2 separate regions of the Homo sapiens genome follow, and region 2 is linked to region 1. Evidence: fine-mapped expression QTL. A gene starts in region 1. The other region holds a variant in brackets. All regions are shown on one strand. Distances are from middle to middle. Region 1 holds the start of ZBTB34 (zinc finger and BTB domain containing 34). Region 2 has its middle 4.7 kb from the start of RALGPS1.

Region 1 (5,000 bases):
AAATTAAAATGAGACTTGTACATCACTCCCTAGACTTCTTGATTTCAAGGGAGCTAACGAGTTAAATCATTTAAAACTGCCACAAAGATTATGGGAAAACAGAAACACATATGCACCTCAACTGTGGAGGAGTGACAGTTTTTTAACTAAAATTAGTAGAGACCATGACAATCAGCTAAACAACAAGAACGAAAAAAGCAAGGGGCTGGAAAAATATATAAATGATGAGTTTGGTGACCCAGTTAGGTGGGAGAGTAAATATAAACTATGAGGGAAATACCCAGCATCCAATGGACAGACAGAGGGCCAACAACTTTGAGACACTTGGCAGAGGAGGGTCAAAAACTCAGGAACTATTTTAGTCTTTATAGTACTTAATGATATGCAAATATTGTGTCACAGCCAAGAAGACCCTAACTCTTATCAACGAATTTAGCAAAAATCAGTTAAAATGATGAGGCCCAAGGCTGATCTGTAGGAAAACCTCTGGGCATAAGAATCAGCTCAGCAGTCCGGAGGAAACCTGACAAGATGATGTATTCCTGTGCCCTGGGTGCACACGTATCTCACCCTTGGGGACAGATCTCAAGAAAACAACTCAAGTGCAATAGCAATTCAAGAGCGAGACTACCTGTCTGCCCAGGTGCCTGCAGTTATAGGCAGGTTGCCTAAAATCCTATGCTTGGATGTTCTGTTGCTATAAGAAGTCAGAGAGACAAGGGAGTTCATCCCAAGTCTGCCATTTACTAGCTGTGTGACTTTGGATAAGTCACTCAACCTCTCTGAGCCTCAGTTCCCTCTTGGATTAAAATGGGAATAGATCGCCACCTCCTTAGGTTGTGTTAAATGAGGTCATGGCTGTCAAGTGTCTACACAGTGCCCTGCATGGAGTGTTTGACAAAGGGTAGCTGTTGCTATTGGAGGATGACCACTGGACAGATCCTGGAGAGACAGTTCCTGCTTGCAAAGGATGAAGTAACATCAGGAAGTCTCAGCAGCTTTCTATCCTGAAGAGGAGCTGGTATCTTTGCCTCCTAGTTTATTTTTATTACAAAGCCAGAAAAAGGAAAATAAACCTCTGCCACAACTACTGACTCCACCAAAATGCAAAGGGAAGCTCTTCAAAGAGTGTTACATTGGTCTAATGCTGGGAGGAAAACGCTGGGTGAGGCTCCCACTCCCACCCAACGGTTTGAAGACTGGGGTGTCCCCAAGGGTCTGGAAATGCACATTTTTTGAGGCATGCTCTGTGACATGGGTTTTATAACAGTGAGTTGGGAATTTTCACCTCCGTTTTGTTTTTGAGACAGGGTCTTGCTCTTTCACCACTGCTGAAGTACAGTGACACGATCATGGCTCATCGCAGCCTCGACCTCCCGGACTCAAGCGACCCTCCCACCTCAGCCTCCCCAATAGCTGGAACTACAGGCATGTGCCACCAAGCCTGGCTAAGTTTTAAAAATTTAAATGGGGCCTCCCTATGTTGCCCAGGCTGGTCTCAAACTCCTAGGATCAAGTGATCCTCCCGCCTCGCCCTCCCAAAGTGCTGGGATTACAGGCGGGAGCCACCTCCGTTTTGAGAGAGAGAAAACCTGCCCAAGGTGGTAAGTCAAGAGACCCCCTATGACAGGTCCCCAGAGCCCTGCTGCTAACCACTGCACCTTGCTGCCTTCAGCTGCCCTGCCAGGAGCAGCTCGGGTGCGTGGCATGCGCCTGAAGAGATGCAGGAGGGAGGGTCTTGGAAGGGAGGGCTGGGCTGGGGGCAGGCCCCCCAGTGCTGGGGGGGTCGAGGGTCCTGGGCTCTCTCCCACCCGTTCGATTCCGGGAGCCCCTGAAACGCGCCCCACTGCACCGCCCTTCTCCCGCCAGCAGGGGGCGCCGAGGAGAGCGCGGGCTGAAGGCAGAGCCGACGCCGCTTCCCGGAGTCGGGACTCCGGGGTCCAGACCAAGGCTGCCGCTAGCCCGCGGCGAGGCTCTGGGACGACAACCGGGCGGGACTCAGGACCCCGGGCCCTGGCTAGAGGTCCGCCGCGCAACGCCACCACCCGGGTTGGCGCCTGCCCGGAAGCGCGGGCGTCCAGGGGGCGGGGCCGGGAAGCGCTTCCGGGGGCGGGGGGCGCGGGCTGGGGCGGCAGCCGGAGCGGCGGGGACTGGCCTGGCGCCGGCGGCGGCGGAGGGGGCGCCGCGGGCGGGCGATGTGAGCGCGGCGCTCTGGACAGGTGAGGCACGCTGGCCGGGGGCGGCGAGCAGCGGGCTAGGCGCGGGCGGGGCAGGCGGGGCAGGCGGGGCGGGGGGCAGTCCCCGGGCCGCTGTCCGGCTCCCTCTGGGCGCGGCGGGGCGGGAGCCTCCGCGCCTGGTCAGTCCCGCGGGCAGGCGGCCGGCGCGGGCGGGAGCCGAGGCCGGGCGGGGTCCGGAGGCCCCGGGCACCTGCTGGGGTCAGGCGCGCGTCCCCGAGGGGCCAGCTGTGCTCGGTCCTGGAGTCCCGGCGCCGCTGGCCCGGCTGAGGGTCGCGCTCGGGCAGCTGCCCTGGGCTCCCAGCCTCCGCCCGGGGCGTCTCGGGATCCCCAGCTTCCGGGCCCCTAGCCCTGGGGGCGCTCCCTTTTGTACGGGGAGGGAGGGCAGATGGTTGAGTTCCCTGGAGAGCCGGCCGGGCCAGGGGTCGGCCCTTCGGGTGGCTGCCACGGAGCCGCTGCCTCACGCCACCGCCTTCCTCCAGGTAAACAGGCGGCGGCGACGGGTTGCGCTTGGCCCCAGACGTCTCCGTGGCCACTCGCGCTCAGTTGGTCCTGCCATTGCGGAGGGCTGGGCTGGGGCTGACCGGGGTTGTAAACAGTGCCCTTCTAGGCCAAGTGGCTGTGCTTTCAGGGCGGCACTCGTCTGGGAGTCTCTGTCTTGAGGCCTTCCGCAAGCCCCTTCCATGCTAGGACTCAGTTTCCCCATGTGATCATTGAGGGTTTCATTTAACTCTCTAAGAACCCTTCTGGCTCTGCCATTCCGTGTATGTCTCAAATTGGAAGGGCTGTCCCTGATTCAAGATACTGGGCAGTTTCGCTGAAGACTTTGTCAGTGTGGACTTTTTAAGCCACTTACTGCATTTTGTTTCAGACAGGCTTTAAAATGATTTCAAGAAGCGTTTTCTAAACCTCACCTTAATCCTCATTCATCCCTTGCTTTTGTCCCTAGTAGTAGTTAATCACATTCCGCCGAGTTTTTGCATGCAGAATTTTTTGTTGTTTATATTTGCCCATTTTCTCTTTGTTCCCTAGTCCAGGCCCTCTTTGCTTCACATCTGGATTATTGCAACAGCTTCTAAGCTGGTCGCTGACTCCAGAGGTTCCCCCCTCCCCCATCCTTCCTTTATGCTAAAGCCAAACTTACTATAGGAAGTCAAAAAATAGTTGAGTGCTTGCTTGCTTATTAAATGGCAAGATGCTGTTCCATGTGGTGGGAAAGTAGTAGAAGGCACACTTACAGTCTCCAGGCAGCTTTACACAGGGTGCTGAGACATTACTTATGAAAAGGTAATTTTGATGAGACAAGGCTGTGTGCTGTAGAATTAAGAAGGAGAGATGGAGGTCACTGTAGGCCGAGTGGTTAGGGAGGGTTTAGTGAGGGGCGGGATTTGAGCCGGGTGTTAAAGGATGAGTAGCATTCAGATAGGAAAAGAGGAATCAGGCCCAGTGATCCTATGGAGTTAGTGAATAGACCAGTCTCCTGGCAGAGAAGGGTTCATATAGGAGGGAAGTAGGAGGAGAGGTGGGCCGCGGCTAGTTCCTCAACTCAAACACTAGGTCAAAGTTGAAACTACTGAAGGCATTGGTGAAGAAGCTAGAGGCCAGGAGATCAGTTAAGAGGCCACGGCAGTTATACCACTGTTCAAAGCTGAGTAGTGGCCTCTTGCCTGCCACGGTATGTCCAGCCACCGCCCACCCTGTCTTTTCAAGACTCTCCGTGGTTTGGCCCCACCCCACCTACCTGAACCTTATTCTCTGCTTCTCCAAGTCTGTCCCCTGCAGAACTGAGTTAGTTACGGCTTCTTGGGTTTTGCTTCTGTTGTTCCCCCTTCTGAAGCACTGGCCTCCTTTTTCTTTTCTGTGCAAATTCTCCATTTCACTTCCTTCAAGCCCCTGCTGCAGATATACTTCCTCCAGAGGGTGTTCCCTGACTTCCCTGCCCCCATGGCTTTGTGGCACTCGGATTCAGCACTTGTTCCTTGGCTGTTGAACTTGTTCTTGTCCCAACTGGAGTGGGAGTTTTTTTAAGGGCATTGTGTCTTAATACTCCTCTCGGAGACCTTATAGTATCTAATACTGGGGCTGGACTTCTATAATAGGTACTCAAATACTTCCTGATTTTTGTTGGTAAACAACTTTTTGTTTTGTTTTGTAATTTGCCTTTTTTTTTTTTTAAGGAGAATCTGTTTTTATCAGCTTTCTGTGTCATAGATAAGTGATATGTAATGCTACCATTCAAGGTGGATGTTTTCAGCTTGCTCTCTTAGGGTGCAGAAAGCACAAAACGAATCTTTGAAACTTTGAAACGTTTCCCTCTGATCATGGGAAAAGGTAAAAGTCATGTGATTCTTCATTCGGAGGCTGTGGGGAAAGAACAGCAGCTTTGGAATCAGAGACCTGGGTTTGAATCCTAGCAAGTCTGCTTACCAGCTCTGTGAAGTTGAGCAATTTATCTAATGCCTCTGAGCCTCCGTTTCTTATTTGCAGTGTGGAGGATAATAAAATCCAATGAACTGTAAACGAAAATGGAACGAAGTAGAAAAATGTGCAGCACCTAGTAACTGCTTAGTACATTTTCATTATTGTTATTGTCATTATTGGGTGTACATTTATCAAGGTGGAGAAATGATAAGCTGCTGAACTGTGTACCTACTGAGTTTTGGATTTCTGCACCGCTGTGTCCCCCCACTTTTGCCTTCCATTTGAAGCACTTGTCTAAAATGTCAGTACCATGAATCTAGTTACGTTTTATTCCCGTTAATGTTC
Region 2 (5,156 bases), 49 kb after region 1:
TTGTCCACATTGTTCTCCCCATATTTTTCAGACTCTGGAAAATATGTGCCCAGCACAGCATTCTCCTCCATGGGGGTCTTTTCCCAGGTTGCTGTCAGTGAAATCTTTAGCATGTGAGCCACCACCTTGTTCCAGGGACTATCTGTGCTCCAGCAGGAGGGTATTCTCTTTGCCTATTGAGCAGTGGGTGAATCATCCCAAATCCACATCTCACCACCTATTTTCACTGCCTATTCCTGGGGCTTCTTGCGTCTGTCCAGGTTCACTAAGGAGCAGGTGCCATAACAGAATTAAACATGCAAGGATTGGCTGAGTGTGGTGGCTCACGCCTGTAATTCCAGCACTTTGGGAAGCCAAGGCGGGCAGATCACGAGGTCAGGAGTTCGAGACCAGCCTGGCCAATATGGGGAAACCCCGTCTTTACTAAAAATACAAAAATTAGCCGGGCGTGGCAGTGCACGCCTGTAGTCCCAGCTACTCAGGAGGCAGAGGCAGGAGAATCGCTTGAACCCGGGAGGCGGAGGTTGAGTGAGCTGAGATCGCACCACTGCACTCTAGTCGGGGAGACAGAGTGAGACTCTGTCTCAAAAAAACAAAAAAACGTGCAAGGATTTTATCAGGGGGAAATGGGTTGAGAGAGCCAGCAGACTGTGAATCAAGTCTGACCTCAAGTAAAGGAGAGAGGGAAGGGAGTGTGTGGAAGCATCCCATACTGCCACACAGTCCAACAAAGCGTCAGCAAGGCTGTCGGGCTGTCTTTGAGCCAAAGATTATCTATCACCAGAGGACTCCCATTGTCACCCGGGGCCAGGCCTGCCTTAGTATTCCTGCCATGGTCAGTCATTGGGTGCAGCCCATGGGTAACATGGCTTTGGTGCCAATGCTTTGATGGATTTCAGAGTGCAGAAGCTGAGCCCTTGGTCAAATAACCTCCCTATAGTTGGAAGTCTGCCAGGTGCATACTCATGGTCACTATAGGATTAACTCACTTTTCCTCAGGAGCACCCTGTAAGATAGGTACTCTGGATATTATCTTCTCAGAAATGAGAAAACCGAGGCATAAAGAGCTTTGGACACTTGTCCAAGGCCACATAGATGGGAATGGAAAAGCCAAGATCGTTTCCTAGAACTGACCAAATTCAAAATTTCACTCTCAGTCCCTATTCTTCCACCTCCTTCCTGCTTCCCATAGTGATGCCTGCTTTCCCTGACGCCCCTTGGTGGCACCTCACCATTGTACCTGTGTGCACAGGAAAAGCACCTGTGTCCCTAATGACAGTGCTCTTTCCTGCGCCCTATTTTCTGTCTTCTGATGCCCCCAGAGATACCAGCCACCAGGATCTGGAGGATACTTTATTCCAGAATCCTTATAACACCTGGGTGTTGATGGCCTCTGAGCAGGAGCTACCTCTTAGGCAACAGAAAAGAGTGGGTTATGGCCTGTATTAGTTATCTTTTGCTGTGTAACAATTTTATCCCAAATGTGGCAGCTTAAAATAACACACATTTATTATCTCAATGTTTCTATAGGTTAGGGACAGCTTTGCTAGGCCCTCTTCTTCAGAGTCTCACAGGCTATAATCAAGGTGTTGGCTGTGGCTGCAGTCACATCTGAGGCTCAACAGTTGAAGGATCTGCTTCTGAGCTCATGTGATTATTGGCAGCATTCTGTTCCTTTCAGGCTGCTGGGCTGAGGGCCCCAGATTCATTGTTTCTTTCTTTCTTTCTTTCTTTCTTTCTTTCTTTCTTTCTTTCTTTTTTTTTGAGACGGAGTCTCACTGGGTCGCCTAGGCTGGAGTGCAGTGGCACAATCTCGGCTCACTGCAACCTCTGCCTCCTGAGTTCGAGTGATTCTCTTAACTCAGCCTCCTGAGTAGCTGGGATTACAGGTGTGTGCCACAATGCCCGGCTTATTTTTGTATTTTTAGTAGAGATGGGGTTTCACCATGTTGGTCAGGCTGGTCTCGAACTTCTGACCTCATGATCTGCCCGCCTCGGGCTCCCAAAGTGCTGGGATTACAGGTGTGAGCCACCGTGCTCGGCCAAAGGCCCCCCCAGTTTCCTGCTGGCTGTTGGCTGGAGCCTGCCCTCCGTTCCTTGCTGCGTGGTCTTCTCTATAGGGCAGCTCACACCATGGTGGCTTAGATCTTCAAGGCCAGCAAGAGAGTCTCCTAGCAAGATGGGTTACAGTTTTCTGTAATGCAATCACATACCTCCTAAAGCCTTTGGCTCATTCTATTGGCTAGGAGCAAGTCAGGTCCTGCCCACACAAGGGCAGGGACATAATGAGGTGGGCATTATGGGGACACCTTAGAGTCTGTCTGTCACACCTTCCTTATGGGTCAGCA[T/A]CTCTAATGAGAACAACTCCTTGAACCTTCCCAAGTTTGGCTCTCCATGAAGTATAAGTTTGTGCAAAGACAGCCGGGTTGAGGCTTGACCCTTGGTGATTTCTCCAATCCTCCTTTCCTCCTGTGGCTCAAAAGTTCCTTTCCCTCATGGAGAGTGACTCAAACACATCAGATACTAAGAATGTGCCCATTTCACCAGCACATCACACTTTGACAGTGAACTCTAGTGGGCACAGCTAAGATCCTCTCCACATCCTGTTACACATATTTAAGCATGGGAATGATGGGATTGACCAGACTTTACAATAACTTCATTTTATTTATTTATTTATTTTTTGAGATGGAGTCTCACTGTATTGCCCAGGCTGGAGTGCAGTGGTGTGTGATCTTGGCTCACTGCAGCCTCCACCTCCTGGGTTCAAGTGATTCTCCTGCCTCAGCCTCCCAAGTAGCTGGGACTACAGGCATGTATCACTGTACCTAGCTAATTTTTGTATTTTTAGTAGAGACGGGGTTTTGCCATGTTGGGCAGGCTGGTTTCAAACTTCTGACCTCAGTTGATCTGCCTGCTTTGGCCTCCCAAAGTGCTGGAATTACAGGTGTGAGCCACTGCGCCTGGCCAACAATAACTTTAAAAAATAGCTTTATTGGCCAGGTGTGGTAGCTCACACCTATAATCCCAGTACTTTAGGAGGCCGAGTCGGGCGGATCATGAGGTCAGGAGATCGAGACCACCCTGGCCCTGTCTCTACTAAAAATACAAAACATTAGCCGGGTGTGGTGGCACCCACCTATAGTCCCAGCTACTTGGGAGGCTGAGGCAGGAGAATCACTTGAACCCGGGAGGCGGAGGTTGCAGTGAGCCGAGATTGTGCCACCTCACTCCAGCCTGGGCAACAGAATGAGACTCCGTCTCAAAAAAAAAAAAAAAAAAAAGCTTTATTGAGATATAATTAACCCACTTAGAGAGTATAATTCGGCCAGACATGGTGGCTCATGCCTGTAATCCCAGCATTTTGGGAGGCCGAGGCGGGCAGATCACTTGAGGTCAGGAGTTCAGAACCAGACTGCCAACAAGGCGAAACCCTGTCTCTACAAAAATACAGAAATTAGCCAGGTGTGGTGGCATACACCTGCAGTCCCAGCTACTCAGGAGGCTGAGGCAGGAGAATTGCTCGAACCCAGGAGGCAGAAGCTGCAGTGAGCTGAGATCGTGCCACTGCACTCCAGCCTGCACAACAGAGTGAGACTGTTAAAAAAAAAAAAAAAAAAGAAAGAAAAGAAAAAGAAAGAGAAAAAAAGAAAAAAAAAGAGCGAGAGTATAATTCAATGGCTTTTAGTATATTCAGAGTTTTACAACCATCACCACAATTAATTTTAGAACACTTTCATCCTCTTCCAAAGAAACTCCTAAGTTGTTGCCCCTAAATCCTCCTCTCCTTCAGCCTTAGACAGCCACTTTGTCTACCCTCCATCTCTATAGATTTGCTTATTACGGACATTTCATATAAAAGGGATCATATAATACGTGGTCTAGCTTCTTTCGCTTAGCATGTTTTTAAGTTTCATCCATGTCGTAGCATGCATCAGTACTTCATTTCCTTGTATAGACAAACCATATTTTATTTATCTATTCATCACTTGATAGACATTTGGGTTATTCACATTTTTTGATATTGTGAATGATGCTGCCGTGAACACCTGTCTACAAGTTTTTGTGCAGACATGTTGTGTCCATTTCTTCTTGGGTGGTAAGTAGGAGTGGAGTGATTGAGTCATATGCTAACTCTATGTTTTCTAAAGTGGTTGTACCATTTTATATTTCCACCAGCAGTGTATAAGGGTTCCATTCTCTCTCTCTCTTTTTTTTTTTTTTTTTGAGAGGGAGTTTCACTCTTGTCCTCCAGACTGGAGTGCAATGGCGCCATCTCAGCTCACTGCAACCTCCACTTCCCAGGTTCGAGTGATTTTCTTGCCTCAGCTGGGATTATAGCCACTTGCCACCACACCCAGCTAATTTTTTTGTATTTTTAGTAGAGATGGGGTTTCACCATGTTGGCCAGGCTGGTCTTGAACTCCTGACCGCAGGTGATCCACCCACCTTGGGAGACAGGCGTGAGCCACCACGCCCAGCCAAGGGTTCTATTCTCTTCACCTTCTCATCAACACTTGTTATTGTCTATCTTATTTGTTGTAGCCATCCTAATGGGTGTGAAGTGGTATCTCATTGTGGTTTTGATTTGCATTTTCCTAATGGCTAATGATATTGAGCACTTTTTCATGTGCTTATTGACCACTGTGTATCTTCTTTGGAGAAATGTCTATTCAGATCCTTCTCTCTCTCTCTCTTTCTCAGACTGCACTTGGCTTTATTGCTTTAAGAAACCTATTATTTCTCGCTTATCACCATCTAAACTTTTCTGTCTTCTTTAACGTTGAACTCCCTTCTTCCTTGCTTCATTTTACTCCCATAGCACTTTTCTCTATCTAGCCTACTACTGTAAATATTGATTTTAATAGCTGCCTTACCCCACTAGAATGTCAACTCCACGAGGACAAGAATTTTTGTCTCTTTTATTCACTGCTGTTTTCTCAGCATTTACAGTAGCACTTGGCGCATAGCAGAGAACCATTAGATATTTGTAGAAAGAATGAATACATCCTTCTGGAAGCATCAAGAATCAATATTAAATGACCTTTCCTCATTTTAAAATTGGGTTTATAATAACTTCTAATATATCACAAAAGAATCTGTGTTCATTGAAAAAACTTAGAAAGTATGCATAAGCATAATAAAAGTATAGATGC

What was found. PIP is the estimated chance that this variant, and not a neighbour inherited with it, causes the effect.
Region 2: its variant is fine-mapped to the expression of ZBTB34 in whole blood (INTERVAL, PIP 0.94).

What each region holds. Positions count from the first base shown.
Region 1 is chr9:126,858,521-126,863,520 of GRCh38, forward strand. ZBTB34 (zinc finger and BTB domain containing 34) reads left to right here and starts at 2,119. Exons shown (of 2, transcript NM_001099270.4): 1 at 2,119-2,219. RefSeq lists silencers at 1,738-2,137, 2,168-2,247, 2,258-2,307, 2,418-2,637 and an enhancer at 2,262-3,059.
Region 2 is chr9:126,907,468-126,912,623 of GRCh38, forward strand. No RefSeq gene overlaps it. Among named protein-coding and RNA genes, the nearest start is that of RALGPS1, 4.7 kb to the right of the region's middle. The variant T/A (reference allele first, on the strand shown) is at 2,349.